Linked DNA regions of Homo sapiens. The protein of the gene in region 2 interacts with the protein of the main gene of each other region in a pairwise test. Each region holds a gene or a part of one and is shown on either strand. Other genes may lie near its edges.

Evidence for each region.
Region 1: the proteins of IGSF1 (region 2) and RANBP10 interact in a two-hybrid assay, tested with the Homo sapiens proteins (one study listed by BioGRID and IntAct).

Annotation. Positions count from the first base shown.
Region 1 is NC_000016.10:67,737,034-67,740,848, forward strand, and holds part of RANBP10 (ran-binding protein 10), read right to left. Parts: intron 1,003-3,815; coding exon 980-1,002; intron 1-979. UniProt on the Homo sapiens protein: May act as an adapter protein to couple membrane receptors to intracellular signaling pathways.
Region 2 is NC_000023.11:131,272,731-131,276,196, forward strand, and holds the end of IGSF1 (immunoglobulin superfamily member 1 isoform 1 precursor), read right to left. Parts: coding exon 3,231-3,466; intron 3,036-3,230; coding exon 2,748-3,035; intron 2,557-2,747; coding exon 2,269-2,556; intron 2,148-2,268; coding exon 1,869-2,147; intron 1,477-1,868; coding exon 1,353-1,476; intron 1,202-1,352; coding exon 1,066-1,201; 3' UTR 776-1,065; downstream 1-775. UniProt on the Homo sapiens protein: Seems to be a coreceptor in inhibin signaling, but seems not to be a high-affinity inhibin receptor. Antagonizes activin A signaling in the presence or absence of inhibin B.

The DNA.
Region 1 (3,815 bases), on a different chromosome or scaffold from region 2:
CATGTGATTAGGCCTGTGATGACTCATAATAGAGACTGGAGTACAGGTGCGGGATGGCTGGAGGTGAGGATATGCCCTGAACTAAGCAAGCAGAAAACTCCATCCTTTTCTGTTTTTTTTTTTTTTTGAACTAAGCAAGCAGAAAACTCCATCCTTTTCTTTTTTTTTTTTTTTTTTTTTTTTTTGAGACGGAGGCTCGCTCTGTCGCCCAGGCTGAAGTGCAGTGGTGCGATCTCAGCTCACTGCAAACTCTGCCTCCCGGGTTCAGGCCATTCTCCTGCCTCAGCCTCCCGAGGAGCTGGGACTACAGGCGCCTGCAACCAGGCCCGGCTAACTTTTTTTGTATTTTTAGTAGAGACAGGGTTTCACCCTGTTAGCCAGGACGATCTTGATCTCCTGACCTCGTGATTTGCCCACCTCGGCCTCCCAAAGTGCTGGGATTACAGGTGTGAGCCACCGCACCCGGCCAGAAAACTCCATCCTTTTCTAAGAAGAGAAGACCCCACAAAGCTCACCTCTCTGGCTTGGGGGTGCCCTAGATAGTAGCAGATGAGTTCCCCTAGGGCACTAACTTTCCTCAGGGATCTCTGATGGGTATGTACAAGGACTAGGTTCCCTCACAGTTCAGGAACAATTCCCTACACTCTGCACCCCAGCTGACACACAGCTGGTTTAGACCAGTTGAGCCATGGAGCTATCTTCATTCCACCACCCTACCCGCCCCAGCCCCACAGCTGCCTTTGGAAGTGCCACAAATTACTGTCACCTGCTAAGAGTCGTAGGAAGACCAGACCTTACTGCTGGAGAGAGAGGAAGGCCAGCAAGTGCCCCTCCTGGTACCCTCAAGCTGACAGCATGGCACACATCCCTGGTTGGGGAAAGAACCAGACTCCACACCCTGCACTTGCAGGTACCACCGTGCCCCATCCCAGTCAGCCCCCAGAAACCCAGGAGGGGAAGACTCAATAGTAGTACTCACCGGGAGGTCTGTGAAGGCTATACCTGTGGGGGGAAAGGAACAGTCATCAGGGCCAGCCCCTGGGGCTACTCTGCCTCTGCACCCCATGGTGGAGCCAGTGCTAGGGCCGGGTAGTTGTTTTTTTTGGTTTGTTGTTGTTGTTTTGAGACAGAGTCTCCCTCCGTAGCCCAGGCTGGAGTGCAGTGGTACGATCTTGGCTCACTGCAACCTCTGCCTCCTGGTTCAAGCAATTCTCTGGCCTCAGCCTCCCCAGTAGCTGAGATTACAGGTGCCCACCACCACGCCTGGCTAATTTTTGTATTTTTAGTAGAGACAGGGTTTCACCATGTTGGCCAGGCTGGTCTTGAACCCCTGACCTCAAGTGATCTGCCCGCCTCAGCCTCCCAAAGTGCTAGGATTACAGGCATGAGCTACTGTGTCCAGCTGGGAAGGTTTTTTTGTTTTTGTTTTTGTTTTTTGAGATGCAGTCTCACTCTGTCGCCCAGGCTGGAGTGCAGTGGTGCGATCTCGGCTCACTGCAAGCTCTGCCTCCCCGGTTCACGCCATTCTCCTACCTCAGCCTCCCGAGTAGCTGGGAATACAGGCGCCCACCACCACGCCAGGCCAATTTTTTCTATTTTTAGTAGAGACGGGGTTTCACCATGTTAGCCAGGATGGTCTCGATCTCCTGACCTTGTGGTCTGCCCACCTCAGCTTCCCAAAGTGCTGGGATTACAGGCGTGAGCCACTGAGCCCGGCCCCGGGCTAGGTAGTTTTAATTAGACCATGGCCTTCTCTTCACTGGCGGCCTGGCCAGAAGTGAAATCAGATGCTTAGGCAGGTGCATAGCTCCTCCACCCGCAAAGAAAGCCTGCTAAGGGGAACTAAATCCAAAAGATCTATCCCCTGCGGCCCTTCAGACCTGATACTTCTCTTGATTTAACACATATTTATGGAAACTTATTGTGCATGCCAGATCCTTTTTTGGAGAAGGGCCTCACTCTGTCGCCCAGGCTGGAGTGCAGTAGCACAATCTTGGCTCACTTCAACCTCTGCTTCCCGAGTTCAAGCAATTCTCCTGCCTCAGCCTCCCGAGTAGCTGGGACTACAGGCACATACCACCATGCCCGGCTAATATATATTTTTGTATTTTTGGTAGAGACAGGGTTTCACCATGTTGGCCAGGCTGGTCTTGAACTCCTGACCTCAAGTGATCTGCCCACCTCGGCCTCCCAAAGTGCTGGGATTACAGGTGTGAGCTACCGCACCTCGCCCCTTTTCCATCCATTACTTCATCTGATCCTCACACCAACTCTGGGAAGCAGGCTTATTGCATTTTACAAAGGAGAAAAATAAGCCTCAGAGGTTCGACAATTTGCCAGTAGTCATAAAGCTAGCAAAGGTGGTGGGGCTGGATTTGTTCCTAGTCCAATGCTTCAATGTCATCCCCAAGCTGACAGAGAAGTGGAAACAGGGAGGGTGGCAGCTGCCTATCTCCAGTCCATACGCAGTCAGAGTCCTCAGAGGTTCCAAGCTGGCAAAGTTCAGGTTAACAATGGCCTGTGTGGAAGGATCTCTTGAGAACAGAAGTTCAAGACCAGCATGGGCAACATAGCGAGGCTCCGTCTCTACAAAATATATAAAATTAGCTGTGGTCCCAGCGACTTGGGAGGCTGAGGCAGGAGGACCACTTGAGCCCTGCAGGTTGAGGCTGCAGTGAGCTAGTATGATTGTGCCACTGGGTTCCAGCTTGGGTGCCAGAGCAAGACCCTGTCCCAAAAAAACAAAAACAAAAAACAGCCTGTCAAAAACCCTCCTGCCAAGAGAAGTGGCTGCATTTCTAGGGACCTCAGCTCTGAATTGGAAGTGAGGGTAGAGGGGAGTGGGACCACAACTATATAAGCAGGCTACCAGAGCACCCATGTTCTTCAAACTGAGAAATGACAAATGACTCAGGACCAGTGGAGGCTCTCCAAGGACTCAAAGCCCTCTCATTTTTTAGATAAAGTCTTTTTTTTTTTTGAGACGGAGTCTAGTTCTGTCGCCCAGGCTGGAGTGCAGTGGCGTGATCTCGGCTCACTGCAAGCTCCGCCTCCCAGGTTCACACTTTTTTTTTTTTTTTTTTCCCTGAGACGGAGTCTTGCTCTGTCCCCTAGGCTGGAATGCAGTGGTGTGATCTCAGCTCACTGCAAGCTCCGCCTCCCGGGTTCACGCCATTCTCCCGCCTCAGCCTCCCAAGTAGCTGGGACTACAAGTGCCCGCCATCATGCCCAGCTAATTTTTTTTTGTATTTTTAGTGGAGACGGGGTTTCACCGTGTTAGCCAGATGGTCTCGATCTCCTGACCTCATGATCTGCCTGTCTCAGCCTCCCAAAGTGCTGGGATTACAGTCGTGAGCCATCATGCCCGGCAGATAAAGTCTTATATCTCCCAGAAGCTCCTGAGCTTTTGGCCTTTGAGGTTTTCAAACTGCTGATTCCTTAGAGATCTCCAGTCTGCTATCCAACCCCTGCCCAGAAAAGAAACTGAAGCCCTGCAAAATAGAACAGGGTCTATTCTATTTTGGGTCTGACAACAGGTCTCCCAGAAACCTGGCCGGAATCATGCCAGCCAGCACATACCACATGCTTCCTCTATGCTGGGCACTGGACTGAGTGTCTTATAAGGCACTATTCAATCCTCAGAACAACCTTGGAAGATGTATACTACCTCTGACACTAGTTCACATATGAAAAAACCAAGATGCAGAGAGATGGTTTATATTCTTTGTTCGGCTATTTTGTTTGCTTCTCACTGAGGGACGCTCATAAGCCGCATGGTCTGCCTGTCTGAAGCCACTTTTGGGCCCCACATGCAC
Region 2 (3,466 bases):
GTCACTTTTTCTGAGGTCTTTAACAAGCTTTGAGGAACTAGGTAAGCCACCCACCCCATTCCAAACGGCCTAATGGCCTAATGTGTACTGAATTCCCACTCATGGGGCAAGTGGCCTTCTAATCCAGGGGGAAAGATCAGTGGCTGAGAATGGGAGCTAGCCCCCCGCCCCACCATTTCCCCATTTGGAATCCTGGGAGGCGACACTGGCAGGTCCCCTGTTCCAAACCATCCACCTCATCTGCTTACTGGCTTCTTGAGATCCCACCATTACACGCACATTCCTTTGGGAAAATGGAACTCTCTTTAGAGAGGGACAAAGTATCAGATTTGATTAATTGTTCTTACTTAAGAGTGAATTCATTTACACCCTGTGATTGCTAGGTAAGGGTCACAAAGCGCGCTTTTCCAGTTTCAAAGTGCTGCTGAGGGCCAATCCCACTGTTTGAAAGTGGATGTACTATGGACCCAAACGTAACACAATGAAATGCATGTAATGTCTGTGTTTTCCCTCCTCAGGCTCAACTTGGAGAGAGTGTTGCCATTCATTCATTCATCTATCCCATGGAAGGGCAAAAGAATACTCTGGTCAGTGACTATGTGTCAAACCAAATTGGGAAGTAGCTATTTTGGAGCCCCCTCCCCACGCCCATCCTTGAACAACTTTCTCTTTTCTCGTACCCCTGCACTCTCTTATTCTGCCATCGAGATCAGCTCCAATACATCATTTCTAAATTGTTAGTGGAAAACAGACCAATAGAAGACCACAGCCATAGTTTTTGAAGTTAAATAGTGAATACTCTTTTTATTCAGAAGAATGCATTTTTAATAGAATTTCATGCGCCAGTAAATCAGTACAGTGAGGAGTTACAGGGGTGGGGAACCTCTCTTCAGGAAACATCTCACCCTGGCAGAGCTCTCAACTCCCAGAATCCCCTTTACCCAGCTCAGGTGATTAGAGACCAAGGAACAGCAGATGGGGCTGACTTGCAGGGTAACTGGTTGGATTTATAGGTCTCTGAGAGCAAGAGAGAGGAGAGGAAAGCTCTTGTAAAGGAGGAGATTATTATATTGGAACGGGCAGTTCCACAGAGATTCTCTGAGAGGTTGATGAAGGAGAATTGGCAGGGGTGCCTGGTTCTCCTTCTTGGTTACACTCTTCAAGGGCAATGGTCTGGTCTCTTCCGTCTGTCTCTGAGCCTCTATGTAAAGAAAAAGACATGAGTAAGGGAGGACCCAGAAACTGAAAACAGATTGCACGGTGGGGCTCAGATACTAGGGGAGCATTTGTATGATTGTTTTTCTAGCACCACCTGGTTCACAGAAGGGGGCCATAATGAGGCATTTATTTACCTGGTTCGCAGTCGAGGCCACTTCTTCCACTCTATGGCTAGCACTACCCCCAAGGCTACAACAACCACCACGATTAGGCTACTTCGGACAATGTTCCCTACAGTGCACTCCTGAGCAACAGGCCCTGTGGTGATGAAAGAGGAGAAACCGAGGCCATGGAGATTAGCGTGTGTATGTTCCCCTTGATCTGGTATTGCCCCACACTCTGGCCTTCTTTAGGGTTCACGTGGGAGCCATCTGTTCAGACTACAGAGGGGGTGGGCAGTGGCAGAGTTTATGCTGAAGCAGAAGCAGCCCTCCTTTCCTTGGGGAAAAGAGGCCTGAAAAGAAACCCACTCACTATCTTCAAATATATTTAAGGTCCCACCTCCTCATCATCCTTAGGAGAAAGATGACACACTTCAGGTCCCTGGCTCCAAAGCTCCTCCATTCTCCTGATTTGGGATGTCTCCATGGGGACTGTCCCTGGGATCCCAGGTGTGTCACACCAGGACCATGGAGAGATTATTCTCTTACCTGCTGCCCCCACCAGCTCCAGGGGATCACTAGGCTCTGACCAGATATCAGGGTAGGCCTGGAGGCGGTAGCTGCAGCTGTAGTTTCCAATGCCTTTTCCTTCTACGTTGTTGATGACAAAGTCTCCATCCTCTGAAAACTGCTGAGGTGCTTCTTCTCCATCATGTTCTAGGACAAATTCAACACCTGGCAGGGGTCCTCGGCACTGAAGGGTGATGTCCTTCCCTAACTTGAACATGGTGCTGGGCCAGGCTGACAGAGAGGGTTTAGGGGGCTTATCTGCAACCAACAAGGACACAGAGTTAAAAGAAATGATCCTGAACTTAGCCTTTTACCCCCTTATTGCTTACTGCTAAAAACTACAAAATCGTGACTTGTACTGAAGTCTCCAGGACCTTACCAGTCACCCAGATCTCCAGGGAGTCACTGTGATTTGAAGCTGCAAAGGGAGTAGAGTCCAAATAATAAACACAGCTATAGATCCCAGAGTCTTCACCTCTCACTGCTGGCATCCAGAAGTCAGCCCTGTACCCACTTGGCCTCTGTTGCTCTAAAGGCTCCTGAGCCCCCTCCTTCAACAGGACAAATGTTGAGTCTGGCAGTTCCCCTTGACACTGAAGAGTCATATTTTCGCCAGGGGCCACCATGGGACCAGGCTGGGCTAATAGGCTGGGTTTGGGGAGTAAGCCTGGAAGAAATGAACTCCTGGTCAAAGAGAAGAGGTCACTTTCCAGTGCATCACCCCTGGGGTCTCTGCTCAATAAAGAGGAAAGGCAATTGGTTGCCTCTCCTCGAGCTCTCTGAAAACTATCTCCCATGAACTAGTCTATTCCCTCCTTTCTACACTTCCATGCCCACTCGACAGCCTCTTCCCCTTACCTGTGACTAGGAGTTCCAGGGTGTTGCTAGGTTGTATCTTGATAGAACTGGTCCAGTCAGGGTGGTAGCAGCAGCTGTAACGCCCCATGCTAGTACCAGATATATTGGTGATGGGGAATGCCCCGTCATTACTGGTGGATCCCCAGAGCTGCATTGAAGTGGCTTCTCCTTCTTTGTGCAGAATGTATCCTACTCCATGGACCGGCCCTCGGCACCAGAGAGTAACATTCTGCCCCATGGGAACCACAGAACTGGGCTCAGCAAACAACCATGGCTTAGGGAATGTGTCTAGAAAGAGACCAAGGTTGTAAAGTGGTGACTATAGAAACTTATGAGTTCCTGCTTAAATTAACACTCTATCTTTCTCCTCTTGGGCACGGTAGTTCCCCTCCGTGGCCTAGCCTAGCCTTCCAGGAGGAATTACTCTCCCTAACCCCTTCTCCAATGATCTCCATCCCAGTCCCATGTCCGGTCGGTCCTTACCAGTCACCCAGATCATAAGGGGCATACTGAGATATGACCCCCTGTTTGACATGGTTGTCTCATAGTAGATACAGCTATAGTTCCCAGAGTCCTCTGCTCCAACAGTGTGGAGAAGGAAGTCAGCTGAGTTCCCTGAGACACTCCGAAACTGTAAGGGAACATGGGCTCCCTCCTGCAAGAGGGCGAACCTCATGCCCTGGAAAGTCCCTTGGCAGCGCAGGATCACACTCTTCCCA